Linked DNA regions of Homo sapiens: region 1 is linked to region 2. Evidence: fine-mapped expression QTL. A gene starts in region 2. The other region holds a variant in brackets. All regions are shown on one strand. Distances are between the middles of the regions.

Region 1 (15,829 bases), 380 kb before region 2:
TATCAAACAACAACAACAACAACAACAACAACAACAACAAAACAAGAGCAGCTTGACTAACATGGTGAAACCCCATCTCTAGTCAAAATACAAAAAAATTAGCTAGGCTTGGTGGCGAGTGCCGGTCATCCCAGCTACTGGGGAGGTTGAGGCAGGAGAATTGCTTGACCCTGGGAGGTGGAGATTGCAGCGAGCTGAGATCGTGCCATTGCACTCCAGTCTGGGGGACAGAGTGAAAGTCTGTGTCTGAAAAAAAAAAAAAAAAGAAGAAGAAGAAATAAAAAGAAATGGGATTCTAACGTGTTTTCGGGCCTCCTTAGAGCCTTCAGCGAATTCACTCATATGCATCACACACATCACGTGGCATTTCCCAAACCACCTGGTCCACGGGACCCTTTCTGCCCAGAGCTCCTGGAGGGGCCAGCATTCCTTGGGTTAGGTCCCTGCAGGTGCACAGCAGGGCTCAGGGTCCCATCGTTCAGCCAGAGGCCCGATCTCGCAGTGGACGGATGCAGAGCCCGGGACCCAGGCCTCCTCTCCCACCTGTCTTCTCTTTTTGGTGGCAGCAGCTCCACTTGTCCCCACGGAAGACGCCAGGGTGGTAGGAGCCCAGCAGTCCGGTGTTGTTGATGCTCACCTTCCACAGCGCAGACAGCCACTGGTTAAGCTCATTCACACACTGCAGGGGACACGGAGGGGGAGGCCTGTTCAGACGTCACCTCCTCCAGGAAGCCCTCCTAACCCGGAGCTCCTGTACCACGCCAGACGCCATGTTCCCCACCATACCAACCCAGCAGCTTTGAGTGAATTAGGAGAAGCTGCCCTTCCTCCAGTGGAACATGACCCATGCCCGGGCGCATGGCCTGGAGAGCAGGTGCAGTGGCTCACTCCTATAATCCCAGTGGCTCACTCCTATAATGCCATCATGGCTGGCTAATTCCTTTTTTTTAGAGATGGGGTCTTGCTACATTGGCCAGGCTGTTCTCAAACTCCTGGCCTCCAGTGATCCTCCCACCTCAGCCTCCCAAAGTGCTGGGACTACAGCTGGGATTATAGGGGGCCGAGGTGGGAGGATCGCTTGAGCCCAGGAATTCAAGACCAGCCTGGGCAACACAGCAAGACTTCATCCTCTCCTCTCCCACCTGTCTCGTCTTTTTGGTGGCAGCAGCTCCACTTGTCCCCACGGAAGGCACCGGGATGGTAGGAGCCCAGGAGGCTGGTGTGGGCTGGATTTCAGCCGCCGCTGGCCCCTTGGCCACGCTCGTAGGTATTCCAGAACCCGCCAAATATATTTGGTGGCCCTGATATCACTACTTTTCCCAGTGGCTCTGGACCCTGACACAAAAGGGAACTCCTAGAGGGAAGGGCACAGAGGGACAGGTCTGTGACTTCCTCCCCACAGGCCAGGACGGTCAAGCCCGGAAGAAACCAACCCCCCTCCAGCTGCAGGCTTCTTACTTGTCCCACATGTCCCTGCCCTAGACACACATCTGGGTCACCCTCCTACAAGGTCCCTGCTCGAATGCCACCCATCAGAGGTCCTCCCTGACCACTCTTTAATTAATTTACTAATTAATTAATTTATTTATTTTGAGATGGAGTCTTGCTCTGTCACCAGGCTGGAGTGCAGTGGCTCGATCTCAGCTCACTGCAACCTCCACCTCCCAGGTTCAAGTGATTCTCCTGCCTCAGCCCCCCAAGTAGCTGGGACTACAGGCACCCACCACCACACCCGGCTGATTTTTTGTATTTTTAGTAGAGACGGGGTTTCTCCATGTTGGCCAGGCTGGTCTCAAACTCCTAACCTCAAGTGATCCACCCGCCTTGGCCTCCCAAAGTCCTGGGATTACAGGCGTGAGCCACCGTGCCCGGCCCTCCTAGGTTCTGACAAGCAGTACAGATGCCACACACCTGGCTTTCTTCTCTGACCCCAGGGGTACCTCAAGTGGGCTCCAAGGAAGGGGACAGGTGCCCCACTTGCCGGCCTCTCAGAGCCCCACTTGCCGGCCTCCCTCCTTACCCACCTTGGAGCTGGGCGTCTTCGCGAAGCTGAGGGCCTCGGTAGTGAGGGAGAAGTAGAGCTTCTTGAAGGAGGAGGACATGAGGGGGCCCTTGCCCTTGGTCCTGTGGATGAAGAGTGGCCCCTCCTTCACAGGTGGCGCCTGCAAACTCAGCGTCCGCTGCAGGTCCAGCTCTGCCAGGCCAGGGAGGGAGGGGAATAGAGAGCCCAGTGAATGAGGGCGGGACTGGGGGGAGCGGAGCAGTGGGAGGGGCCATGGGGCTCAAGGGCTGAGCAAATCTGAACAGCAGGCAGTGGACGTAGTCATGGGGCTCAAGGGCGGAGCAAACATCAACAGCTGGTGGTGAGCGGGGTGACAGGTGGACTGAGGAAGGCAGGGCCATGGGCTTGGAGGCGGGACACGCGTCAGTAGCAGGTGGCGGCGGGGCTATGGAGCTCAAGGATGGAGCAAATGTCAACAGGCGCAGATGATGCGGGGGTGAGGCCATGGGTCTAGGGGTGGGGCAAACGTCAACGGCAGGCAGTGGGCAGGGTCACAGGAAGCACAAACAGTGGTGCGTGGGTCTATGGCCTGGGGGCCTGGCAAATGCCAACAGCAGGCGGTGGGTGGGGCCACGAGAGGAACAAACAGCGATGGGTGGGGCCGTGGGGCTCAAGGGCGGAGCAAACGTCAGCAGTAGGCTGTGGGCGGGTCTGTGCAGGGCGGCGCTCACCGTCCTTCTCCTCGATGTCCACGAGCTTGGTGATGAAGTCCTTCAGCTGCGCCACGCCCTGGCGCACGGTGGGCTGCAGCGGCTCCATCCAAGCCTCCTTGGCCCTGGAAGCCGGCGTGTCCATGTTGCCCACGTTCTGGACTGCCTGGAGGTGACAGCAGGAAGGACCAGGTTCTGCTAGGTTAGGGGCCTAGCCACTGCACCCCCTCCCACCCCCCCTCCCCAAGTCTTTGCTACTCAGCTGTAGCGATGGAGGCAGAGGCGACAGAGGCCATGCCCACGGGCCCCCTCCAGCCCCACTAGGGATCAGGGAGGAGAGGATCATGAAGTTTGATGCCTTATGATAACTGAGACCACTTGGGCCTTCCTCTGTAGGTTTAACTGACGCTGCTGCACTGGATACCCCACCCCGGTGCCGGGCACATAGGTGCAGCCTGAGAGTAAGCAGACCCGGGTTGGAAGGTCCCGCGATTCACCACCGACAGGATGGGCGGCCTTGGCAACCCCCGACCCCTCGCAGGCCTGTTCCCTTATCCATGAGATGGAGCTCGGACAAGGTGGCCACAGGAAGGCTTTGCAAACTGTGAAGTGCAGTGCCTACGTGGGCGTGCCAGTGGCCTCGCCGGAGCCGGTAGGGAACACTCTGCAGTCCAGGCCAGGGCCCCGGTAGGACACCCAGCTGTGCATCCCGCCCGTGGCCGCAAGGCCCGCACCTTAGCCAACAGGAGCAGGGTGCGGCTGGTGCGGGCGTCCGCGTGGCGCTCCCGCAGGTGGAAGAGCTTGGGCGACATGATGGCGGGGGAGAAGAAGCGCAGGCACAGGAAGCTGGTGACGGCGATGAACGGTACATTCTGGAGGGGTGCGGAAGAGCGCGGGCTGGAGTCCCCCAGACCAGGGCTCCTGGCAGCCCCCTCCCCTTAGGCTCTGTCCCTGACCCTCGCTGCGACACAGCCTCCCTGGTCCTCCCCAGCGCTCCCTGGTTCCCCACCGCTCTTCACTCCTCGCCCCAGCCCAGTCCAACCCGGCCCAGCCTAGCCCAGCGGGTGGAGGGCGCACCTCGTGCTGGGCGCCGGGGAAGCGCTCGCGCACGCGCCGGAAGAGCTGGCGGAAGGTGGCGCGCACCACGGCGGGGCACGCGCGAACCGAGCGGCTGAGCGCGCTCAGCAGGGCCCCCAGGTGGGCGCGCAGCGTCTGCGCGCTCTGCTCCAGCACCTCGGCCTCGGTCTGCGGGCGGTGCAGCCTGGAGCACCTGCGTGGAACGGGGCGGGTTGGCAGAGGAGGTCGCGGTCAGCGCCAGGGCCACGACAGGAACAGTGGCTCTCACAGCAGCCAGGACACGGACACAGGGGACAATACACGGGTGGGCAGAAGCACAAACACACATGCTGACAGGGCCTGATCCCAACCCGCTGCCGCTGCACCCCGCAACCCCCGGAGTTACCCCCGGCCTCACCCTACATCCTTAACTTCCACTTTGCTGGGGTCCAGCTCCACGTACTTCTTCTCCTCAAACACCTTGTTGATGATGGGGCCCAGGACGCCGTGCAGGTACTGCATCCCGGCCACCTGGGGACCACCGCAGGTCACATTGATCCTGTCTCCCCCAGTCCCACTCCAGCTGCCCACCTTCTCCCGGCAGCCGCCCTTGCACCGTTTGCCTGCCGTATCCGCCCAGGAGGGGGCCAGGTACACATGCAGGGCAAACTGTTTATTCATGAATGAATGAATGAGTGAGTGAATGAATGACTAGAATTCTTAGCCCTTGTAATCCTAGCACTTTGGGAGGCCAAGGCAGGAGGATCACTTGAGGCCAGGAGTTTGAGACCAGCCTGGGCAACATAGTGAGACTGTCTCTAACTTAAATTTTAATCACACACACATTCTCTTTGGGGGGGGGTGCGGGGCACGGAGTCTAGCACGGGGCCCAGGCTAGAGTGCAGTGGCGTGAGCTCACTACAACCTCTGGCTCCTGGTTCAAGTGAGTCTCCTGCCTCAGCCTCCCCAGTAGCTGGGATTACAGGTGCCCACCACCATGCCAGGCTAATTTTTGTATTTTTAGTAGAGATGGGGTTTCGCCATGTTGGCCAGGCTGGTCTCGAACTCCTGACCTTAAGTGATCCGCCCGCCTCAGCCTCCCAAAGTGCTGCAATTACAGGCATGAGCCACTATGCCCAGCCACATTCTTAACCTTAAAGGGCTCTGAATATGGAGATAGAACACTGGAGTCGAAGTCCCAGCCCCCTCTGTCGCTCTCTCTGAAGCTCAGTGACTACTCCAGTATTAAATGATGCATGTATAAAGTTAGTCACTCTATCATTATCTGTAATAGCAGATGATTGGAAATGACCTAAATGTCTCATAATAAGGAACTAGTTTTAAAAAGCATGTTCCATTCATGCCTTGAAATACTATACATTGAAAAAATAAAAATTGTATAAATATGTGAAAAAAACAGTGTGTATATTATACTACGACTTACTTCTTTGTGCATAGATGTTCTACAAGGCTATATAAAAGATTGTTAATTATGGTTGTCTCTTGGGAGGGGGAGTTTAGATTGTATAATGGGGTAGAAGGCTGACTTTTCGTTGTTTACTATTCTGCACCTTCTGGATTTTGTACTATGTATATATTTTATATATTAAAATAGCTTTATATAAATAAAACTAGCCCCATGGCTGAATAAATTTTATTACAATTTTCTTATGATTCCCTGATACTCTGTTCCTTAACTTCCTAGTCTGGCTTGCATCTCACTGCTTGACCATTGAGAACCTGATCTTGCTTGCCTAATGAAAACTTTAGTAATTGTCTTGTCTTAGCTAACTTTACTGGGTTGACTCCTGCTAACTCATTTTACTGATTTACCTGTAAGTCTGGTTACCAGATGGACAAATTCCCAATCCTACTCCCTTCTGTTTATTTGCCAAGGAATCTACCCAACAGACAACAGTACCCTCTCTCTACCTATATATTAATACATTTTTTGTTGAAAAAGGTATTTTATTTTAATCCTTAAGCTTCCATCTTTAGTCCCCAATGTATTAAAATAGTGATTGCATTACTAAAGAGACTGTTTTACAAGATGCACATTCACCTAAGAGCCACGAGCTTTCCAAAGCCAACCTTCTCTCAAAGGAGAAAATACTATTATTTCTCCTAGTACTTATTTTGAAGAGCAACATCCGTTCAGCGACTATTTAGAAAGCCAGTATCAAAGTTTAGATTATTATTTTTAATATTTAATCAAGTTGCTACAACAGTAGTTAACAATCAATGAAAAATAAAGAGGTGATTAAAATGTATTAACTATGTAATTAAACACATGCACATACACATACAAACTAGGATCTCATTATGTCAGTAAAGAACTAGAAAAGGATAAAGGAGAAGAGAGGCAAATAAACCACACAAACAGAGGGACAGATGGGCCACTGAGGGTAGGGCCACTGCTGCGTTTTCCTCCCATTCCTAGCCTTGGGTTTGGCATATTGTAGATGCTCAGGAAAGATTTTTCAGAATGAGTTAAGGAAGATAATCTCACAGATTGTATGTGAGGAGGTAAAGGACCAATTTTTCTTTATCTTTCTTCTTCTCTGTCCCCTTTTCAACATCCTTCTGACTCCCTCTTACCACTAAGCACAGCTTGTTCAAATAGAGTTGTTCTGACAATACCCCAGATTCCTGGCCAAAATCAATCTCCATGTTTGTCATTTTAAAGATGCCAAGAGGAGGACATCCTAACACAGTGCCTTCTTTCCTCTTACCCTGACCTCTTCTGCAGTGTACCATTTAACTGAATTGAGGGGTATTAATCTACTTTGCAAAGTGGAATATGGCCTGTATTCTTATAATCTTAGCATCAATATTCAATCTTTGTAAATGGATTTAGTTATGTTGATATCTCAAATATTTAAGTGCATTACAAGGTCTTCTTCCATACTGGAAAAGTTTTTAAATTTCCACCCCACTGTCAGAGTAAAAACAATAATAACAAAAATATGGGAACAATAGAACCTATCTGTACTGTTCAATAAACTATCCGTCTCTTTGAAGATTCTTGACAGCCAAGGAAAATCTTGAAAAATTATTATTCTTGCAAGGGTGCCTAGATGTCTGAAGGAAAAGCGAAAACATGTCAATAATAGCAAGATTTGCAGGAAGGTTTATAAAAGAAAATTGGTCATTTTTTAAAGCACAGCCTATAAGTACAGCTGTTAGTGAGGGGTGATAACTAAGGAGAGGATGGGGAAACATACTAGAAATATTTAAACAGAGTGTACATAGTTATCTTTGTTTTAATACACAGTCTACTTTAAAAGTCAAATTGTAAAACCTAAAATAGCAGTGTTTAAATGTGTGAATGTCAAGTGAAATGC[G/A]CGCTGAAGCAGGAAACGGAAGATTGGGTTCCAAATTCCACCCCGATGTGTAACCCAGGGCGAGTCTCAATCTTCCAGAATCTTTAAGATGGAAATAGCAATATCTCAAACCTCCTATTACAGAATCATTCTGAAAAGTAAGTTTACATACTTGAAACTACTTCGTAAGCTCCTTGAGGGTGGGGTTCTTATCTTTTCCCCTTTATAACCAGTTACTTAAGGTATAAAAAAATAGAAAATATTTAATTCCTCGAAAAAAATTGAAATGTCATTAGGGATTATCTCAAGAAGCTCATTAGTAACTCTATAGAAGGTCCAACCTACAAAATAAATGAAGCTTTAGTAGCGTCAGCAAATCACCGATACTTTCAGTAATTAAAACTTTAGTTTAATTTTAGGCCAGGTGCAGGGGTTTACACCTGTAATCCCAGCATTTTGAGAGGCCGAGGTGGGTAGATCACTTGAGCCCGGGAGTTTGAGACCAGCCTGGACAACATGGTGAAACTCTATCTCTACATAAAATACAAAAATCAGCCAGGCCTGGTGTTATGTGTCTGTGGTCCCAGCTACTCCAGGGGCTGAGGTGGGAGGATTGCTTGAGCCCAGAAGGTAGAAGTTGCAGTGAGCTGAGATTGTGTCACTGCACTTCAGTCTGGGCAACAGAGACAGACTTTACATCAAAGAAATTTATTTAAAAAACCAACATTTATTTATCTGGTACCAGCCTTAAGAGAACAAAATATATAGAAAATAAAGCATCTTTTGAATATGTGAATATCCTCATAAAAAAAGATAATTTTACAAGTATGAAATTAGGTAAACAATGGCAGCATCTTTTTTTAAATACACAGTGGTAGACCGTGTTGTTAAATATACATAGGTATCAAGTTGCAATTCTTTCAGAAAGCATTCTGATTACTATATCAACAACCTACCGTGTCTACTACACCTCTGGCCAGAGACTTCCCCCATAGGCTCAGATCCACATACTGGACATTCCCTTCAGACCTGTTGCTTCTTCTGAACTCTCATGTATGGTGCCATAATTTGGCTGATTTCCTAAATCAGAATGCCAAGCATCAATTTAGAATCTTTTCCTCACCCACTCCATCCACTCAGACACTAAGTCTATAGAATTTTATACTTCCTTAACATCTCTCCTAAATGTATTCACTCCTTTTTTCCTCATTGCCAATGCCACTGTGCAGTCTCTCTTCACATCTTCATCACTGAAACGGCATTCTAACTGGTGAGATGGTAGGAATGGAAAACACAAATTCAAGAGATATTAACAAGAGAGAACCAACTGACAGAACCCAGGAGCAGAGTTCGGTTCCGGAGAAGGATAATGGATTTAGTTGTGAGTATGTTTAGTTTGAGGTACTTTGGGGTCATCTACATGAAGATATTCCAAGTATGTGCATACATGGGTATGGGCAAAGAAACCAGATTCATAGTGGACCCTGTGTATATGGATGCAATATCCCCTTTCATGTCTTACTGCCTTAAAAGCCTTTCTAGACCGTCTCATCCCACAGCAGTCAAGCCTCCCTTTCCCTTCTGATAACACTGCTTGTATCCTCTGGGTCCAAAATCATATGCCTTTTGTTGACATTTAATATTTCAATCTTCTTGTTCACAAATAATGCTTCTAAAGAATAGGAACCTTTTTATGCTTTATGTCCATAAATTCTCATGGTATCTAGCATAATCCAGCACACAGGAGGTGCTCAAAACCAAGGAGGAGTTGAAGGGATGAATTTCAGTAGCTTTAGTAATAATAATTATAAACATCTAGCACAGTGCCTGGCACATAGTGAATGCTGTATCTTTTATCTTTTAAATAGATTAAGACTTAATGTCCAAAATTATTGTTCACAAGGTTCTTGACATCTTAATACTCACCAAATCTGACATGCAACTGAAACTTGGACACAAATGCTGCTATTACATATTTTGTAAGAAGTACAACCACTCATAGTTTTATATATAACCTGTTTTCGTGAAAAGGTCATATATTAACAAACTTAATCCATCTTCATCATTGCCCATGATGATTGGTACACATCCACACTCTACTTTTAGTTTCATATTCTATTTTGATTCGTAGTTTTACTTCCTCGGTGTTTCCCTACAATGTTTGTTCTCCCTTTTATGCCTCCCAAATGCAATGCTCCTATGCCTCCTTTTTTCCACCCCTTGGCTAAGTCAGGTCAAAGACTTACTTAACAATGATTGGAACAATAATTATTTTCAGGAAATAAAGAGAAGGGAGGAGATGCCTGGCTCTTGGTAAAAAGCAAAGAGCCAATTATTTCGCTTAGGCGAAATAATTTAATGTTTTGATTTTGGCTCACAGCATTAAGACAAAAATGATTTTACGGCCTCCAAGTCGTGGAAAAGTTCAGCATCTGACACACTGACCCTTGACAAGTGAGGCCACATTTATAAATCAGTGCTGTTTTACATAAGCACATACAGATAGAAGTAGAAATCCTAACTAGGGAATACCGTGAAAGCTATCACTTGTATTAACCCTGGACATGTGACAGCATCTAACATAATACCCATTGGAGTGTATGCTGGTTCAACCTCTTTGGAAAACTGATTGAAGGTCTTTACTAAAGCTGAATATAAACCTAGACTATGACAGATTAACCCCACTCCTGTGTATATACCCAAGATAAGTTCATTCTTAAGTACAAGGCATGCATAAGAATGATCACAGAACTTTATTCATTATCTTCAAAACAGGAAATAATCCATTTTTATAAACAAAATAGAATGGATCAACAAATTATGGTATATTTACACAGTAGTGAGGTAGGAGGCAGAACTCGACTTTGGAGGTGGGGCTTGGACATCACACCAAATTGAGGACTAGCTAAAAGAGGTCTGAGGCAGAAGCACCTCCCCCATTAGACACCAGTGTGCCATGTTAGTTTACTGTTGCCATGGTAACATCAGGAAGTTACTGCCCCTTTCCATGGCATCAACCCGACAACCTGCAAGTTACCAACCTCATTCTAGAAATTTCTGCATAAACCAGTCCTTAATTTGCATCTAATTAAAAGTGGATATAAATTTGAGTGCAGAACTGCCTCTGAGCTCCTATTCCAGGTACACTGCCTATGGGGTATCCCTGCTCCACAAGGATCAGAACCTCTGCTGCTGCAGTTCACTGCCACTTCAATAAAAGTTGCTGTTTAACATCACAACCCTCTCAAGGGCAAGCCTCAATTTGGGGGCTTGACTGTCCTGTATCATCAGGATACTAAGAAGCAATAAAAAAAGAAATGGAACTACCACCACGCATAATGCTATTAATGAACCTCACAACTATAAAAGTGAGCAAAAGCAGCCAGACACAAAGAAAAACATACTGTATGACTCCATTTAAATGATGTTCAAGAAGAGACAAACTAATATATGATAAGCCAGTAGAGTGGTTATCTTGGGTGGGAGCAATGACTGGGAAGGTCTCAAGGGAGACCTCAGGTTCCTGGAAGTAGATCCTGATCAGACTGAGAATATGGTGGGAGAAGAGATAAATCAATGAGATACATATTTAAAGGAGATATTTAACTCTCAAACTGACAAAGAGAATACAGATGATTGGGAGAAGAATGACAAATTCAGTTATGGACATGTTGGTTATAAGCATACATAAAAAACCTGATCTGTACACTTAATATTTGTGAGGTTTACTCTATATGTTATACCTTAAATAAAAATTAACAATATAAAGAAAATGGGACAGGATTAAATATCCAATAGGACAAAAAAAAGTCTGGAGTACCAGGCCTCATAGTTACGCAGCAATGGCCAATTTGGGGAGCAGGTGTCCTACATTAACCCACACAACCCATTGATGGGAGTTGTGTGGCTTGGTTTCCAAACATCACTTAATCACTTTTGTTTTTGAGACGCAGTTTCACTTGTTGCCCAGACTGGAGCGCAATGGTGTGATCTGGGCTCACTGCAACCTCTGCCTCCCAGGTTCAAGCAATTCTCCTGCCTCAGCCTCCTGAGTAGCTGGGATTACAGGCATGCACCACCACACCTGGCTAATTTTTGTATTTTTAGTAGAGACGGGGTTTCGCCATGTTGGCCAGGCTGGTCTGGAACCCCTGACCTCAGGTGATCCGCTCACCTCAGCCTCCCAAAATGCTGCAATTACAGGCATGAGCCACTGCGCCCAGCCCCAAGCATCACTTTGAACATTCATTCCAAGGAGTGAATTAACACAGTGTAGTTCCTGCCCTGTTAGGTCTTATTGCGATCATAGGTCTTAATGTGATCATAATGTCAGTGGGGAACTCTAAATTTTCTTTTTCTTCTTAAAAAAAATAAAGGGATAAGTGTGCAGAATGTGCAGGTTTGTTCCATAGGTCTACGTGTGCCATGGTGGTTTGCTGCCCCTATTGACCTGTCTCTAATTTCCCTCCCCTCAGCCCCCAACCCCCAAACAGGCCCTGGTGTGTGTTGTTCCCCTCTCTGTGTCCATGTGTTCTCAATGGAACTCTACATTTCCTATGCAAAATATTTTATGCTGATTAGTCAAGTGATGTGGGAAGAGTTGAGAGGTTGGAGAAACCCCTGTGAGCTGGCTACTCAGGCAGTTCCCTGAAGGACAAGAGATTTGAGCCAGGATCTCAAAGGTTAGGAACAGACCCAGGGGTTGCAAAGTGCAGTCTATGCAAGCATTTTGTTTGGTTTTTTAGTATGTATGGCACAGCTTAAAAGCAATGGAGGCAATACGACTAGGCAGATTGGTGGATAGCCATGATCTTACATCATGTATTTTGAATTTATGCCAGTTTCCTTAGACATCTGACGTTATTCCTTCTAAATATGGGAGAGTCCCTGCTGAGCGGAACAACATAAAGAGTAGCTCTTGAGAATCTAAGTGAATGACTAGATTGTAAAAGTAGTTTGGGTATAAATTGCAGAGGCCTGTGAATGTCATACTGAACACACTCTTCAGGCAATATGAGACGAGAGCATGACAACCATGCATTGCAACTTGGCAGTGCTGGGACAACTGTGCAACTAGCATTAATAACAATGAATGATATAAGCAGTTTCTGTGTTTTCCAATGTTATGCCAAGCAACTGGACCCTTGGAAGTGGATTTGACTGCTTTCCTTCAGTTGTCATCTGCACTTTTGCCATTTTTGCAGATACAGTTTCTGTTTAAACAACTGAAGGAAGACAAAGAGGTTAAAAGACAAAGACAACTGAAGGAATATAAAGTAGGTTATACACAGTATGTTAAAAACTTGTGAGACCCATAAATTTTAGAGTAATCCTAAAAGAATTAGAAAATAAATTTACAGATGCCAATTAGGAACAATATCTTAGTGGTGTTGTTATGGAAATAAAGTTTTCTCAAGCCAATAATTCTGAATATTCCGAAAGTTTGCAATTTGTCACTGCTTTGAGGAGGAGTTCTCAGGCAGTAAAATTGCTGATATTGATACTACTCAAAAGTGTACGTAGCACAGTTCTTTGAAACTATTATTGAAAGCTCTTGGATATAATTATCAGAGGCCTGTTATACCCAGCGATTAATAACTATAAATTATGCATCCATGTATATTGAGAGATTCTTGAAATATTTATTGTTAGATTGAGGATCAACATGCATGAGAAGTTGTCCTAAGTTCTTTAATTTTGCAAAACAAACCTTAATCTTTGGCTTAGAAAACCTTGAAGATAATCTTTACTATTAGCATAACTTTTGCTACAAATAAACTCAAGTTGTTGTGATTTTTACTGTTATGGCTTCTTTATAAACTGGTCTTAAGGTCACTCTGTGAAGAGTGGCTACAAGCCAAGATAGCTGCTTTTTAGAAGAGCCCTGACGGGCAGGCCGTCAGGTTCCTGTGTGTGAGTCAGGTGAGATACAATGACAACAATGAGAAGGTGAAACCAAACGCATGAAACAGAAGAAATTTATTACTTACAGATCTGACAGCTTAGGGGTGCTGATGGGGAGCGCAGATAAGTCTGGAGGTGGCAGGGAGCTCAGCAGTGGGTAGGGAGTGAGAGAGCAGCTGTGGGAGTTCACCTTTATTAAGGTATATGGGTATTATCCCTCCGGTCTTCTAACAGGAGTTGTGGATTGGCTGGTTTAAGGAAAACACGCCAGAAGGGGGAAACTTATTTATATGACTCTGGTGTTGATCATTAGGTTTTATCACGGTTAGCAGCTGTGGGGTGTTTTGGGTTTGGGATTAGCAGGATGAGAAACAAGTGGGCTATATCTCCACCACACGGGGAGGAGTTATTTTAACTAGTACAAAGATCAGGTATGATTGGGTTTCAAACAACTTATGTCAGACCTAAAAATGCATGACCTTACATCATAAGTGTATGTTGAGTCAACGTCTTTGGTAGCTACTATATCAAACAAATGTATGACACAAGTTTAGCCTTATTTTTGATTTGATTATTAAGGGTAGTGGTGGAGAAGTAGAAATTCTATTGCAAAGTTCGACATATGATGGATTTTGACAGAAATGTGAACTCTTCACTTAAAATTTAAGATTAGAGGAAGGAAATCATGGTTTTAAAAATACAAAGATAAGCATTTCTTTTTCTCCATACCTTTGCCAGCATCCATTGTTTTTGACTTTTTAATAATAGTCATTCTGACTGGTGGGAGATAATATCTCATTGTGGTTTTGACTTGTATTTCTCTGATAATTAGTGATGCTGAGCACTTTTTCCTACTTTTGTTGGCCACATGTATGTCTTCTTTTGAGAAACGTCTGTTCATGTCCTTTGCCTATTTTTAAAATGGGGTTATTTGTTTTTTGCTTGTTGATTTGTCTAAGTTCCTTATAGATTCCGGATATCAGACCTTTCTCAGATGCAGTTTGCAAATATTTTCTCCCATTCTGTAGATTGTCTGTTTACTCTGTTGATGGTTTCTTTTGCTGTGAAGAGGCTCTTTAGTTTAGTTCAGCCACTGTGGAAAGCAGTTTGGAGATTTCTCAAATAACTTAAAACAGAGCTACCATTCAACCCAGCAATCCCATTACTGGGTATAAAACCAAAGGAAAATAGATCATTCTACCAAAAAGACACATGCATTCATACATTCATCACCACACTATTAATAACAAAGATGTGGAATCAATCTAGTGGCCCATCAGTGGGGGATTGGATAAAGAAAGTGTGTTATATATATACACCACAGAATACTATGCAACCATATAGGAGGATGAAATCATGTCCTTCACAGAGACATAGAAGAGCTGGAGACCATAATCCTGAGTGAATTAATGCAGGAAAAGAAAACCAGACACTGCATATTCTCATTTATAAGTGGGAGCTATACACTGAGCACACATGGACAAAAACATGAGAATAACAGACACTGCAGACTACTAGAGAGTGGAGGGAGGAAGGGGAGTGTGGGTTGAAAAACTACCTACTGGGTACTAGGCTTACCACCTGGATGCAATATGCCCATGTACAAAACCTGTACATGTATGCCCTGTATCTAAAATAAAAGTTAGACTAAAAAATATATAAAGATAGATGTAGAAATAGATTTAAATTTGTGTGGATATAAATATTCATGAATCTGTTTCCTAGCTCTGTCCACTGAGAGGGGCTAGAAGCTATGACATTCTAGGATCAATGACCATGCTCAGCATTAATATCTTAGTTTCCAAATATCATTCTCCAGTAACAGGAACTAGGGATCCTCCAAGAAATGGCTGATTCTAGGGCTGGAGCAAAAAAAATACAAGATGAGCCCAGAACACATTCTTGTGCCAGAAAGTAAGGAAGTGCAGAAGGAATCACAGGAGCATATCAGAAGGACAAGTGAGCCTACCTGAAGGGTGTACACTGGCCAAATGTGGGACAATGATAGCATGAAAAGGAATGACAGTGAGAAACCTAAGTCCACACTGATAAAAAGATGAATAAATAAGGAAAGAAGAGAAAGTTCTTCCTTATAGTAGAAAGCCACCTAATAAATATAGAAGAAATGATGGAATTAGAAAATCACCATTTGACAACCATCATAACAAGAGTTGATCTGGGTAAGTATCCCCAATAAATCCCAAACTTGTAGGTGAAAATTTTAAGAGGAGTAAGACAACCACATAGTCTCAGAGTATCTCTTCTTGAGGTGCTTATTAATTTCAAACAGAAAAATAAATAAAAGGTAAATCTGGAAGTCATCACCTTAACCAAGTGATCAAGATGAACAAGTCTAGCAATGGGACAAGGCAACATCATGTGTTCCTAGTAGAAGATAATTGAGAAGGATACAAGATTGTGTCTTTATATCTTTACCAAAAATACATAGCATGAATCTAATAATAAGAAAATCGGAAAAATCCAAATTGAAAGAAAATCACAAAATAACCGGCCTCTTCTCTTCAAAGTGTCAATATCATGAAAACTAAAGAAATCCTGAATTTCCTTTAGATTAAAGGAGACTAAAGAGATGACTACTGAATGCAATACATAACCTAGAATTTTCTTTTGCTATAAAGAACATTATTGGGACAACTGGCAAGACCCGAATAAGGTATGCAGATTAGAAAATGGTATTATATCAATGTTAATTTCCTGATATAATTGTACTATGATTAAGAGAATGAATATATTTTTAGGAAATATAGTGATGCATTTAGGTATAAAGGGGCATCGTGTCTTCAGAGAGAGAAAGAGAGAGGTTGAGAGAACAA
Region 2 (15,829 bases):
GATATTGGCGAGCCATGGAATTCCAGGGGAAGGAAATTTTTCTGAAGTGAGCTGACAATGCACAGCTGCTTTTTTTCCCTGGGAACGTGTGCCAGCTCTGGGTAGGAAAGAGGACAGGGCTGGGCCCAGGCAGAGAAAGTCTACAAATGGGAAGAGAAACCAATAGGCTTATGGTGGTGGCACGGGGGTAACATGACAGGTTAGAAACTTGAGGTGCCCCAAGTGTGGCCACTGTCTCCCATAAGGCAGTGAGTTCTGGGAGTGTTCACACAGGAGGCTGAGGAGCTAGAACATCAACTCCTACAAGGCAGAGTGAGTCTTTCATAATCTCAGGGAAGGAAGAGGAAGCCTGCCTCAAACATACAGCCAGCATAACCTTCAATGTACTTGCCAGATTTTAAAGTTGAGGGCCCACGGCCACCACGCCATCTGGGAAGTAAGGAGCACCTCTGCCCAGCCGCCCCACCATCTGGGAAGTGAGGAGCGCCTCTGCCCGGCCGCCCCACCGTCTGGGAAGTGAGGAGCACCTCTGCCCGGCCGCCCCACCACCTGGGAAGTGAGGAGCACCTCTGCCTGGCTGTCGCCCCCTCTGGGAAGTGAGGAGGCCCTCTGCCCTGCCGCCCCACTGTCTGGGAAGTAAGGCGCACCTCTCCCTGGCTGCCCCACAGTCTGGGAAGAGAGGAGCGCCTCTGCCCAGCCGCTGCACCTTCTGGGAAGTGAGGAGCGCCTCTACCTGGTTGCCGCCCCATCTGGAAAGTGAGGAGCGCCTTTGCCCGGCCGTTGTGCAACCCTCGAAGTGTGAAGTGGCAGCCTTGTGTGTGATTTTTATGCCCTCCCCAAGTTTGCATTTTTGATATTAAAGTTTACTTTTAAAAGTTTTAAATTGGGGAATATATATACATATATAAAAGTTGAGGGCCTAGAAGGGAAACTAAAGAGCTAAGCTTAAATACCTCCGAAGAGCAGAACCAAATCTCTCACAATCTTTCAGTCTGAGGAGACAGAGACTGGCTAGCTTCTCAATCAAAAGCCCAGAAGAGCTATGCCTGAGGAATAGGGATGAACCAGATGTAAACCGAACCCAAATAAATCCACAGTCCAAGCTCAACACAGATCAGTCCCTTCCTGGACTGAGGTCATGAGCTCTGTACCCTATACAGAGGAAAGGACGAACCTTTGCTGGCGAAAGAGTATATCATCTGGAACTTCTATTGTTCTTTTCTCACACAATGTCCAATAAAAATAAGAAATTACTAGGTATGGGCTGGGCGCGGTGGCCCACGCCTGTAATCCCAGCACTTTGGGAGGCCGAGGCAGGTGGATCATGAGGTCAGGAGATCGAGACCATCCTGGCTAACACGGTGAAACCCCGTCTCTACTAAAAATACAAAAAAATTAGCCGGGCATGGTGGCAGGCGCCTGTAGTCCCAGCTACTCGGGAGGCTGAGGCAGGAGAATGGCGTGAAGCCAGGAGGCGGAGCTTGCAGTGAGCCGAGATCCCGCCACTGCACTCCAGCCTGGGCGACAGTGCAAGACTCTGTCTCAAAAAAAAAAAAAAAAAAGAAATTACTAGGTATGTATGAAGGCAGGAAAATGTCTTGAATTATCAACAGAAGAAAATAAGCAATAGAAGCAGACCCACAAATGATCTGGATATTCAAGTTAACAAACAATGATTTAATTTTATGTATTTATTTTATTTATTTATTTTTTTAGAGACACAGTCTCACTCCATCACCCAGGCTGGAGTGTAATGGTGTGATCTCAGCTCACTGCAACCTCTGCCTCCTGGGTTCAAGCGATTCTCATGCCTCAGCCTCCCAAATAGCTGGAATTACAGGCGTGCACCACACCTGGCAAATTTTTGTATTTTTAGTAGAGACAGGGTTTCAGCTGGTCTCGAACTCCTGGCCTCAAGTGATCCACCCACCTCGGCCTCCCAAAGTGCTAGAATTACAGGCATAAGCAACAAACAATAATTTTAAAATAACAACCATCAACATGTGTGTTGATCCATTTTGCACGGCTATAAAGAAATACCTGAGGCCAGGTAATTTATAAAGAAAAGAGTTGTATGCGGCTCAGGGTTCTGCAGGGTGTACAAGAAGCATGGTGCCAGCATCTGCTCGGCTTCTGGCGAAGGCCTCAGGAAGCTTTTACTCACTGCAGAAGGCAAAGGGAGCCAGCATGTAACATGGGAAGAGAAGGAGTAAGAGAAACAGCTAGAGGGAGGCTCTTCTAAACAACCAGCTCTTGGGTGAACTAATAGAGGGAGAACTCACTAATTATCACAGGGGAGGGCACAAAGCCATTCTTGAGGGATCTGCCCACATGACTCAAATACCTCCCACTGGGCCCCACCTCCAACACTGGGGATCAAATTTTAACAGATTTGGAGAGAACAAATAAAGAAAACAGAAAAAGGCAAACTGAATGAAAAGATGCATAATTCTAATAATCAGAATTTATTTAAACATCAAATTGTCATTCTAGAACTGAAAAACATGTCTAAAATTAAGATTTCATTTGATGTATTTAAGAGTAGACTGGACACAGCATAAAACAAAATTAGTAAACTTGAAAACCATCAATGAAAAAGATCCAAACTTGAGCTCAAAAAGAAGAAAATGGGGAAAAAGCAGAAGAGATCAAAAGAGGCATGTAGAACAAGGTAAAGAAAAAGAAAAAAAAAGCTAACATATGTACGATTGGAGTTCCAAAAGGAAAAGAGAGAACTGAATAGAAGTACTATTTGAAAAGAACCAAGAATTTTCTAAAACGGATGAAAAATATCTATCAACAGATTCAGTAAGCCCAGGGGACCAAGCAGGATTGTTTAAAATGTTTTTTAATTTTTTATTTTTTTAGAGATAGGGTCTTGCTCCATCACCCAGGCTGGAGTTCAGTGGTGCAATCATAGTTCACTGCAGCCTCAAATTCCTGGGCTCAAGTGATCCTCTCCTCTCAGCCTCATGAGTAGCAGGGACTACAGGTGTGAGCCACTAAGACAAGTTAGCTTTTTTTTTTTTTTTTTTTTAATTTTTGTACACACAGGGTCTCACTATGTTACCGAGGCTGGTCTTGAACTCCTGGCAAGCAATCCACCTGCCTTGGGCTCTCACAGTGCTGGGATTACAGGCATGAACCACCAAGCCAGGCCTGATTTTTAAAAAAATCAGTCTCTATTCAAGAGATTTGCAGGAAAATGATATTGTAGGTAGAAAATCAGGTTTTATTTAGGACAGGTAGATGAAATTCAGAAGAGGTTAAATATACAGGGAAAACTTTAATGAAAGGTTATTTATGTATTCCAAGGCTTGCAGAAGATGGGTTTTAGAAAAGTATAAAACCTGCCAGACATGGTGGGTCATGCTGTGGTGGGTCATGCCTGTAATCTCAGCACTTTGGGAGGCTGAGGCGGGTGGATCACCTGAGGTTAGGAGTTCGAGACCGGCCTGACCAACATGGTGAAACCCTGTCTCGACTAAAAATACAAAAATTAGCTGAGCATGGTGGCAGGTGCCTGTAGTCCCAGCTATTTGGGAGGCTGAGGCAGGAGAATCGCTTGAACCCAGGAGGCGGATGTTGCAGTGAGCTGAGATGGCACCACTGCACTCTAGACTGGGCGACAGAGCTAGACTCTGTCTCAAAAAAAAAAAAAGTATAAAACCCATCTGGGAAATTGAGTCAGATAAATAAATGTACAGACAGGATATGAGGCAGAATGGAATTCATCTTGATATTCTCTTAGAAGAAATGGGTAATGAGTTTAAGGTGGGTGTGTGGGGCCCAGAGGATTGCTCCTTTGCACTTCCTGCTAGTGTGCTAGCAGAGGTGAGTGAAGGACTCCTCAGGAGAACATGATCTTAGACAATGGAGAATGCATATAAGGGCCTCCTCTATGGGTGCAGAACAATGCAGTAAGCTGGTAAGGAAGGAATGCTTTCACCCAGAGGGGGAACTGGGGACTGCCTCATTGCAGCTTTGTGATGTTATAGTAACTGGCGGCCTAGATGAGAAGAGGCCATCCCTTCCTTGATGTACCCTGACTCTCAACTCAAGTCCATTTCTGCCACCTGCTCCACCGCCATATCACAGACTGAGCCATCACTCAGAATGGCTGCACCCTGAATTGTAAATATAAACGTTCCACTTTCTGACCCCCACCTCCTGTGTTTCCAGCTCCCTCACTTAATTACTCCCTCTACTTCTCTTCACTCACCTCTTAGAGGAGTCTTCACTTTCTGTCCATGTATCAGTATGATATCCTTTTCTCATTTCCCACTGAGTCCTTAGAGTCCTTGGCCCATCACTTCAGATACTCAGGAGCTTAGCTCCCTAACCTACTGCCTTTCCATTCTATTAATATATGCCTGGCAAATTCCTATCCCAGACGAAGTCAACTTGGTTATCTCTGTACCTACATCTGATTTACTGACTGCTACTTGAGAAAATCACACAACCGGGAAGATGGGTACCATTCTCCCTACATATTTTCAAGCACAATTGTATAGAGGTACAACACAAAACTCACTGTAATAAATTAAAACAATACAGCTATGGACAGAGTAAAAAGTTAGAATTCTCCATCTTTTCCCCCAAAACCATTCCACAAGACATCTGTTATTAACAGTTTGGCATAGGTTCTATGCATGCACTATTGTCTTAAAGCTAGATATATACACATATATGTACATAAACACATATACAACATATATGAAATCAAATGGACAGCTAGAGCAGAATGGACAGTTGCTAAGCAACTTGCACTTTTTCTTTTTTACTTAATAATATGTGTTGGGAGCCAGCCATGTGGTGTATGCCTGTAGTCCTAGCTACTTGGGAGGATGAGGTGGGAGGATCAATTGAGCCCAGGAGTTTGAGGCTGCAGTGAGCTAGGATGGAGCCACTACACCCTAGCCTGGGTGGCAGACCAACACCCCGTGTCTCAATAATAATGATGATAATAATAATATGTCTTGGAGGACATTTCTTCTTAGTAGGTACAGATATACTTTATTCTACATAATGCCTCATTCGCTTAGTCACTCTAGGTCATTTACTATTTTTACTATGAAACAAAGTTATAATGAATATCCTTGTACATCCTCCTGAACACATGTGCAAGTATTTCTCTAAAGTAGATCCCTAGAAGTAGAAATGCTTGGTTAAAGGGTACATGTATTTAACATCTTAATAAATATTTCTCAATTACCATCCAAAAAAGAGACGGGTGGGGGGTCTCTACCAAATTGCCCTCCCAACCGCCTAGGAGCGTTACTACCCTCAGGTAGGACCTCCTCTTTCTTTCCCTAGACATCTCTCTCCCTCATTCTCCACATAACGTATCTTTGCTCGAACCTCCTACTGCACCAACATCCCCATCCCCACTCAAACACGCACATTCTTGGTAAATATCTCACCAACTATTTGTAGAGAAAAAAAGAGGTCAACAAAGGCAAATGTTCTCAGCTTCCTACCCCCAAACCTACAAAACCTAATGTCTATCCCCTTCCTGTCTTCCTTCCCTACTCTTATAACGGCAGTAGGAGGGCAGTCCTTCCTGTTGTCTAAAGGCAATCCTGGTTGAGAGGGTCCTTACCTTCACAAAGGGCTGACTACACTGACCAAAGGTCTCAGCTTCCACTCTTCCCTCCGCTAACCTCCATCTATTTTCTGCCCTCACGGCTCCATGGAAACCTCAGGCTCACCTTGGGCAGAATCCAGCTCCTTATCTTAGGTGACTAGTGCCTACTCCCTACTTCTGACAACATTCTTCATAATGCCAGTCTGCTGATTTTCCTCCTCAGGCTCTCTGGCACTTCTTTCTCACTCCTCCACTCCTCAGGTACTTCTTGTCCAAACCTTAAAATCTGAGTTTGGGGTTTCCGATCTGGGCCTTGTGCTCATTCCCCCTGGGAGATGTCACCCATTCCCCACGTGCAGCCACCATCACCCTCTGTTTTCTCTCTAATCAGCGTCTTCAGCCCTGATCGCCTACAAGTCCGAATTTGACTTCACTTTCTCGCATTCTGCCCCGCCTTCCCTCCACTCCTCCCCAATCCCGAAACCTAGTCCCTCCTCCGGGAAGTCTTTCCTGACTCCTCCCCCTTCTAACTCCCCACCGACGGTCTGTGTCCGCTGCCACGCGTGTCCAGTACCTCGCAGACCTGAGGAATGTAGTTCTCCTTGAAGTAGTTCTTCAGCCTCGGGTTGGCATTGCGTAGCGAGGCCATGGCCCAAGGCCTGACGGAGAAGCTGCGATAGTACCCTCCCCGCGCTGGGACTAGGGGCCGGGCGCGTGCGGGCGTTGTCCCGGCAACCAGGGGGCGGGGCTGGGCGTGGCACCGCCCCGCGCTCCGCTGCCAGGGGCGGGAGGGAGGAATGGTTGCTTCACGCCCCGGGGGAAGAGACGGGAAGCTCGGCTCTGGGTTGCGGGCCCCGGCGTCTCCGCGTGGGGCGCACCGTCCGACCCCCCCCTCCCGGTGTGCAGCGCCCCGCACCGCCCCGCCTCGCCTGGGAGAAGCCGCCGGGACGCGCCGGGCTGGAGTGGGCGGTTATAGGCTTTGAGCTAGGCCGTTTCCGGGAGGCGGAGCTCAGACCCCATTTCCTTTCTCCACATCCAGGTCAGGTGGCGTTTGCTGTGGCGGCTAGGCCCGCGTGCGCTGGAGACCTCCGCGCTGGCCCCCGCGAGCCTCCTGCCCTGGCCCGGCGCTGCGGCTCTGCCGCGGCGGCAGCATGGGTGGCCCCCGGGGCGCGGGCTGGGTGGCGGCGGGCCTGCTGCTCGGCGCGGGCGCCTGCTACTGCATTTACAGGCTGACCCGGGGTCGGCGGCGGGGCGACCGCGAGCTCGGGATACGCTCTTCGAAGTCCGCAGGTGGGACCCCGGGGTTTCCGGCAGGTGGGCGGGGACTGGGCAGGGGGGCTCCCCAGGCCGGGGTGGTGGCTTGCGTGTGCTCGGGGTAAAATGAGGAGCCGAGCTAGAGGGAGAGGCAGTACTTGTGTGAGTGCAGGGTGCTGCGCCGCCCCCGCCGCCCCTTTGCTGACTATACTGGTATGAAAACTTGCCCTGGCTTTCCTGCCTGAGCTCCGCGTCACAGCGGAGGATTAGATTTCTTAAAAACCTGTTGATGGCCTCTCATTTTAAAGCTTGCTCCGGGCCTTTGTGTAACTAAAGGGATTCTCCCGATTGTGGAAGGGCTGTTGAGGGGCCCAGAGCCATAGGTCAATCTCTGCTTGCAGGTGCCCTGGAAGAAGGGACGTCAGAGGGTCAGTTGTGCGGGCGCTCGGCCCGGCCTCAGACGGGAGGTACCTGGGAGTCACAGTGGTCCAAGACCTCGCAGCCTGGTGTGTGTTTTGGAAATGGGAACAGTTGTCTGCGCGAGACACACCCTCCCAGCGGACAAATGCATGATTCGGTTTCTGTCCAAAAGTTGATCGGTACATTAAAACCCTCCAAAGGCATGTTTCACATCATGGAAGCTGTTAGGGAAATAATTTAAAATATCATATCTGCCATCCAAGAAACTCCTGTCCACAATTGTAGAAGAGAGCTAAACAGCTTCATTGTTGAATAAGCACAAACTAAATTGCCTCACACATCACGGGCAATTTGCTAATGGGATAGCAGGAAGAATTCTAATTCCTTTAAATGTAGCTGGACAGATAGAACCGATTTCATATTACATACGTGTTCTCAAGATAAAAAATAATTTGTCCTTAGGTAAGAGGACTTGACAGTACCATTTGCTACATGTAGTTTATCCTGAATTTACTGGTAATTGGGGTGGTTGTTATCTAATTGCCTTTATCCAGAGGAAAAATAAAAATATCTTTATGATGTGGAACCAGGTGCCCAGGCTAAAAACTCACAGAGTTGGGGAGATTGGGGATCTATCTTCCTGGAAGAGTAGGTTTCAAAGAGTACGCTTTCGAACAGTAGGCTCCAAAGCTTTTAAGAAAGTCTTTCTTGGGCTGTAAAACTGGCCAAATGCTTATTTCACTTTTAAAAAGATTTACAGGCTGGGTGTGGTGGCTCACACCTGTAATCCCAGCACTCTGGGAGGCCAAGGCAGGCGGATCATGTGGTCAGGAGTTCAAGACCAGCTTGACCAACATGGGGAAGCCCCATCTCTACTAAAAATACAAAAATTAGCCGGGCTTGGCGGTGGGTGCCTGTAATCCCAGCTACTCAGGAGGCTGAGGCAGGAGAATCACTTGAACCCAGGAGGCAGAGGTTGCAGTGTGCCAAGATTGCACCATTGCACTCCAGCTTGTGCGACAGAGCAAGATTCTGTCTCAAAAAACAAAAAACAAACAAAAAGATTTACATTTGTATCAAAGAAGCAGAAAAAGGAGTTTTGTTTTGTTTTCAGACAGGGACTCCCTCTGTCACCCAGGCTCGGTGCAGTGGCGCAATCACAGCTGCAGCGGCGCAATCACAGCTGCAGCCTCCACTTCCCTGGGCTCCTCCCACCTCACCCCACTAAGTAACTAGGACTACAGGTGCACACCGACACCTGGCTAATTTTTCCAATTTTTTAGGAGATGAGTTTTCACCATGTTGCCCAGGCTGATTTGAACTTGGCTTAAGCAGTGCTCCTGCCTCAGCATCCCGAAGTGCTGGAATTACAGGATTGAGCCTCCTCACCTGGCCAATAAAGGATTTTTAATTACAAGTTTGCACGAGGGAATGCTTTAAGAAAAAGGGAGTGGAAGGGGAAGGTCTCTCTCACTTTTGCCACTAGGTATAATTCAGCTTTTTTTTTTTAAAGATTTGTATGTACCCTTACTGTATTAGTCCATTTTCTGTTGCTTATAATAGAATATCTGAAACTGGGTAATTTATTAGGAAAGAAATTTATTTCTTAGAGTTATGGAAGCTGAGAAGTCCAAGATTGAGGGGCCGTAGCTGGTAAGGGCTTTCTTGTTGTGGCATAGGGCATCCCAAGGCCAGAGGGGCAAGTGTGTTAACATGCTGACTCAGGTCTCTTGTTCTTATAAAGCCACCAGTCCTGCTCATTAATCCATGAATGGATTAATTCATTCATGAGGACAGACCCCTCATGATCCAGTCACCTCTTAAAGGCCTTACCTCTCAATACTGCCACATTGGGAATTAAGTTTCGACATGAGTTTCGCAGGAGACATTCAAATCATAGCATTTACAAAGCCTAATTTGTTGTCTTTGCCCATGTCAGAGATATTTTTGTATAAGTACATTGGGAAGGTGTCCTGGACTCAGATATCTTCTCAGTTATACTGACTCAATCTGATGAATGTGGACAGTCTTTTAAACTTAACAGTTCCCATAATCATCATTATCTTAGGTAAGGCAGCTTAAAAAATAATTTGCTCACAGTCCCTTCTTCCTGAAGCTACTCCTTTATCATTGAAGAAGACTTGAGAAATGCTCATTTCATCATCAATATGGTTTGGCTTTGTGTCCCCACCCAAATCTCATCTTTTTCTTTTTTTTTGAGACGGAGTCGCACTCTGTCTCCCAGGCTGGAGTGCAGTGGCATGATCTCAGCTCACTGCAACCGCCACCTCATGGGTTCAAGCGATTCTCTTGCCTCGGCCTCCGGAGTAGCTGAGATGACAGGTACACACCATGTGCCTGGCGAATTTTTTTTGTATTTTTAGTAGAGACAGGGTTTCACCATGTTGGCCAGGTGATGTGCCTGCCTTAGCCTCCCAAAGTGCTGGAATTACAGGCATCAGCCACTGTGCCCGGCCCAAATGTTATCTTGAATTGTAATCCCATAATCCCTACATCGTGGGAGGGACCCGGTGGAAGGTAATTGAATCACGGGGGCAGTTCCCCTCCCCTCCATGCTCTTCTCGTGATAGTTCTCAGGAGATCTGATGGTTTTATTAGGGGCTTCCCCCTTTGCTCTGCACTCCTTCTCTTTCCTGCTGCCTATGAAGAAGGAAGTGTTTGCTTCCCCTTCCACCATGATTGTAAGTTTCCTGAGGCCTCCCCAGCCATGTGGAACTGTGAATCAATTAAACCTCTTTCCTTTATAAATTACCCAGTCTCGGGCAGTTCTTCATAGCAGCATGAGAATGGACTAATAAAGTCATCATCACGCTTAGATTTCAGAAGATGATCTTTTGTTTTTTGTTTGTTTTGTTTTTGTTTTTTTTTGAGACGGAGTCTTGCTCTGTTGCCCAGGCTGGAGTGCAGTGGCGATCTTTTCTTTGTTTTAAACTCACACCTCTAATCCCTTTGGGAGGCTGAGGTGGAAGAATCGCTTGAGCCCAGAGTTCAAAACCAGGCTGGGCAACATAGTGAAACCCCATCTCTACAAAAAATAGAAAAATTAGCCAGGCATGGTAGTGTGCACTTGTAGTCCCAGCTACTCAGGAGGCTGTTTTGGGAGAAACCCTTGAGCCCAGGAGGTCAAGGCTGCAGTAAGCTGTGATTGTGCCGCTGCTCTCCAGCCTGGACAAAAGAGCAAGACTCTGTCTTAAAAAATAAAAAATAAAATAATTTTTGTACTAACGTGGTTTGAGAGCATTGAAAAAGACGGAAACAGTCCCAATTCATCCAACAATCTAACGTCATAACCTGACAAGGATGGTAAGAAAAACTATAAATCTGTCTCAACTATGAATAAAGATATAAAAATCTTAAAATATTAGCAAGTCAAATCTATCAGGGGATTAAAGTAATAATATACCAAGGCCAAATGGACATGGAAGGAGGAGTCATACTAGAAAAAGGAAAAGCCACATGATGACCTCATAATAAAAAGGCATTAAAATATTTCTTTCCATAGCTGAAGCTCGGGGAAAAAAAAAGAAAAAAAATTTTATCATTTCTGATAAAAACTTGCAGCAAGTAAGGAATAAATAGAAGGAAATGTTCTTAAGTTGATCAAGTACATCCATCAAAACCCAAAAGCAAATATCGTATTTAATAGACACACTAGTTAGTAGCATCCTTATCAAACTCAAGAACAAGAGAAGGGTGTCTGCTATCACAGCTACTATTCAACGTTCTTCTGGAGTCATAGCTTGATAAGAAAACAACATGCATAAATATTGGAGGCAGAATTATAATCGTAGGTGGCATAATGATTTACTTGGAAAAATCCAAGAGAATTAACTAACTACTAGAAGCAATGAGTTTAATAAAATATCTTGAGTACAAGTAAATATACCCAAATCAATAACTTCTTGTATACATGCAGTAACAATTCAAAATTTTAATTGAAAATATTTTATTTGACAGAATGAGACCCTGTTTCAAAAAATATATATCATTCATGATAGCTATAAAAACTTTAAAAATTAGGAATTCACTTTAAAAACTAGGAGTTCCTGTAGTGAGAAGATAATTTTACTGAAGGGCCTAAGACTACATAAACAGGCATATTGTGTTCCCAGTTGGAAAGATTCTGAACCATGACAGTTATCTTGAAATTTGTCTTGCTACGTTATAATGTGGTAGTCACTTTTCATTCCCTTTGAGAATTCTAATTTCTCCTTGATTTACTGGAGGAGACCACAAACCACCGAGCCTAAGATTCTTTCACAGTCTTGTTGGCACAGAGCTAGATGGAAAGTAGAACACATGTTTGACTCCTCACCTGTGTAATAGCAGTCCAAAAACTCACCAGTGGAAGAGCTGAGTATTTGATGATCGCCCTCCTGTAAAATTTTTAGAGTTTTAAGTTTTACATTTCTTTACTAAAAAGTTATACATGGTTTTTGTTTTGTTTTGTTGTTTTGAGATGGAGTGTTGCTCTGTCGCCCAGGCTGGAGTGCTGTGGTGCGATCTCAGCTCACTGCAACCTCTGCCTCCCAGGTTCAAGTGATGCTTCTACCTCGGCCACCCGAGTAGCTGGGACTACAGGCATGTGCCACCACTGCTGGCTAATTTTTGTACTTTTAGTAGAGACGGGGTTTCACCATCTTGGCCAGGCTGGTCTCGAACTCCTGACCTCAGCTTATCTGCCTGCCTTGGCCTCCCAAAGTGGTGGGATTACAGGTGTGAGCCACCGTGCTGGGCCGATAAATGGTTTTTATTAGAAATTCAAAGAGAATATATAGAATTAAAGTATAGGCTCATTATTTTATTTTTTATTTATTCATTTATTTTTTGAGATGGAGTCTTGCTCTGTTGCCCAGGCTGGAGTGCAGTGGTGGGATCTCGGCTCACTGCAACCTCTGCCGCCCAGGTTCAAGCAATTCTTCTACCTCAGCCTCCGGAGTAGCTGAGATTACAGGCATGTGCCACCATGCCTGGCTAATTTTTGTATTTTTAGTAGAGACAGGGTTTCAGCATCTTGGCCAAGCTGGTCTTGCACTCCTAACCTCGTGATCCGCCCATCTCAGCCTCCCAGAGTGCTGGGATTACAGGTGTGAGCCACCGCATTCAGCTAGGCTCATTATATTAATATACTAGGAGGAATAATGGTTGAGAGGAAAGAGTAATGTAGGAGTAAAAAGATCTGGATTCTAAAGCCACTTTTGCTATTATTAATCAGCTATGTGTCCCATTAATGAAAATAATATACTAGTCACTTTAAATATTCTAGGTACAAAAGTGCTTTGAGGTAGGCACTATTAACTCCCACTTAGCAGATGAGTAAACTGAGGCTGAGAGAGCCTAAGTCTCTTACCTGGTAAGTAGCTTATTTGGGAATTTGAACTAGACAACCTGACCCCATAGCCTTGGCTTAGTTTTAACTACCACATTGTGCCTCTTCCCACCAAGTGAGAATTCTGTGATACAACACCGTGAAATTTTATCGTTAGTGATTTAATCCCTAGAAAAATTTTAAATGGCTATTTATAAAGAATTTATACATCTATAAGCTTTCTCTTTTTTAAAAACAAAAACAAAAACAAGGTTTCATTACTGTCACGCAAGCTGGAGTGCAGTGATGCAATCTCAGCTTACTGCAACCTCTGCCTCCCAGGCTCAAGCAATTTTCCCGCCTCGGCCTCCCGAGTACCTGGGATTACAAGGCATCCTGCACCACGCCTGGCTAATTTTTTTCTGTTTTTAGTAGAGATGGGGTTTCACCATGTTGGCCAGGCTGGTCTCAGACTCCTCAGTTCAAGTGATCTGCCCGCCTCAGCCTCCCAAAGTGCTGGGTTCACAGGCGTGAGCCACTGCACCCAGTCTATAAGCTTTTTAAAAATGACTTCATGAGATAACATAGAGTGGTATGATTTTGAAATATCTCAAATATGGATGAGTTAAATTTATCACATTTCTGCCATGCATGTGCACGTGTATGTATGCATGTGTATATGAAATCATACAACTTCAGGGCTGTGTAGGAAACTCTGGAGCCAGTTACAGTATTAAGCCAACCCTTTTATTTGCAGATGAGAAAACTGAGACCCCCAAAAATAGTAAGTGACTTACTTGTAACTTTGATTTTTCATTTCTGTGGTTTCTGCTACTAACTACCCCTGTGACTTTAGGCAGATCCTTGAACAATCCTGGCTTCAGTTTCTTCCTGTGTAAAATAAGAGGTTTGGATGAACCCCAAATTCTTTCCGTTCTAAAAAGTTGTGTTTTTATCATTCTTTCCTTTATCTTTTCAAGTATTCTTTGGGTGAAACGCTATTTTATAAGGTGTTAATGAGGCCAACAGTGTATTCAAAAGTAAAAGGTCCTGATTAAGACTTGGTAGTGAGAATATTCTAGCTTTGTAGCTGTGACATTTTCTTAACATTTCTTATTTGGCTTCCTCAGGGCATCACATATTATATATCACGTACCACATATTGTTTCCCATGTGTAATCTATACTTGTCCCTTTATTTATTTTTGTGTGTGTGTGTGTGATTCTTCTTTGAGCAATATACTTAGTTATTTTAGTTACAGAAATAATACCTGTTTATTGCAAAAAAAAAAAAAAGTACTGTTGAGTACAGGGTAGAAAATAAAAGTCCTTCATAATCCCACTACCCAAAAATAATCACCTTTAACAATTTTATTTACTTATTTTTTTTTTAATAGAGACAGGGTCTCATTATGTTGTGCAGACTGGTCTCGAACCACTGGCCTGAAGTGATTCTCCTGCCTCCCAAAGTGCTGGGACTACAGAGATGAGCTGCTATGCCCAGCCTAACAATTTTATGTGTTTTAAGAAAAAACACAGATTTGAGATCATGTAACACCTATTGTTGTGTAACCTCCTCCTCACCTACCCTTGCCCCTCCCCCCACCACCCCAGTAAGAGTGTTATAAAATGGCTTCTGTTCTTCCTGTGGTGATTTCTGTAAAGAGGATTTTTTTTAAGGTAAAGCCATAAGTTTAAACATCATTGAGCAGATCCAGCATTTGGCTATCCTAGCTCTTCTTCAAAATGTCAGGTTTTCTTTTGTCATCACCACCAGCAGGACTATTATTCTAGGATCCTAGTCATCATGCCTTGTATAAATCAAACAAAAATGCCACACTAGCAACAAGATTGGTTTACTCTCATAGCTTTCCTTCTATCTGATGTGCTCAGAAAAGATCTGCTTAATGCAAATCATATTTCCTAATTAATCTCTTTATAGGTAAGTGTTCATTGGATGGGTGTACCTCGTTTTTAAAAGGAGAAGCAAAATGTTATCAGCATTTGAGGTATATAGTATTTGCATGAAGTGTCTTACTAACAGCCATATGCCAGGTGACCATTGACTAATTTCTTGGTATCTATAAGCCTACACTTCCCAGCTGTAATTTGAGAGTACTACAAGTATCTTCTTCCTAAGGATGTAAAGTGCTTAATACTGTGCCTGCCATACAAGTATGTATTCGATATTGTTTTAAAAATTTTAAAAAAACAGGCTGGGCACAGTGGCTCATACTATTATCCCACCACTTTGGGAGGCCAAGGCAGGAGGACTGCTTGAGGTTAGAAGTTTGAGACCAGCCTGGGCAACATAGTGAGACCCCCATCTGTACAAAAAATGTTTAAAATTAGCCGGGTGTGGTGCATGTGCTAGGACCACAGGTCCTACCTACTTGGGAGGCTGAGGCAGGAAGATCACTTGAGCCCAGGAGATCAAGGTTGTAGTGAGCCATGATTGTGCCACCGCACACCAGCCTGGGTGACAGAGTGAGAGCCTGTTTCAAAAATAACCTCGTATTGATTTTAGCTTAACTTCAAATAACTTTCTTCTTATGCAGAAGACTTAACTGATGGTTCATATGATGATGTTCTAAATGCTGAACAACTTCAGAAACTCCTTTACCTGCTGGAGTCAACGGAGGATCCTGTAATTATTGAAAGAGCTTTGATTACTTTGGGTAACAATGCAGCCTTTTCAGTTAACCAAGTAAGTACCTCAACTCAGCAAGCAAGCTCTTTCCATTCTTACACACTAGCGGTAATTGTGACCCTGAATAAATTACTTAACCTCTCAGACCCTCAATTTCCTCATCTGTGCAATGTGGCTACTTATACTTAAAACATAATGTTTGTTTACTTCTGAAAAACACAGCCTAATAGTGATATGATTATTAATGTGATTATAGATCCCTATGAAGTTGGTCACTGGCATCACATTCGTAAGTATATCTAATCAACGTTTACCATTTCATGGCCTTTTAAATTATTTAAAATTCAGCAGTGCTTCAGTAAAACAATGAATGCATCTAACATTTAAGTACATACTTTAAATTGTATATCGGTCTTATGAATATGATTCTGATGCTGATGGTCCCTGGACCACACTCTGATAACCACTAATCAATGTAAATGGCTCCTGCAAATGGAGACTTAACACTAAGACTAAAGAGCTTAATTTGAACATGTGCTTCTTCCTACTCTTCCTCACAACCCTCCAGCATGAAAAAATAGTTAAAACAA

The links.
Region 1: its variant is fine-mapped to the expression of FBXL13 in whole blood (TOPMed, PIP above 0.99).

Annotation. Positions count from the first base shown.
Region 1 is chr7:102,686,171-102,701,999 of GRCh38, forward strand. It overlaps LOC124901713 (a long non-coding RNA gene), which reads left to right and starts at 2,817. Exons shown (of 2, transcript XR_007060461.1): 1 at 2,817-2,914; 2 at 3,109-5,439. It also overlaps the pseudogene RASA4DP. The variant G/A (reference allele first, on the strand shown) is at 7,113.
Region 2 is chr7:103,068,535-103,084,363 of GRCh38, forward strand. It overlaps FBXL13 (F-box and leucine rich repeat protein 13), which reads right to left and starts at 6,262. Exons shown (of 21, transcript NM_001394494.2): 1 at 6,162-6,262. The coding sequence starts at 6,236. ARMC10 (armadillo repeat containing 10) reads left to right here and starts at 6,606. Exons shown (of 7, transcript NM_031905.5): 1 at 6,606-6,877; 2 at 7,243-7,347; 3 at 15,148-15,296. The coding sequence starts at 6,739. RefSeq lists a silencer at 6,193-7,032 and an enhancer at 7,303-7,352.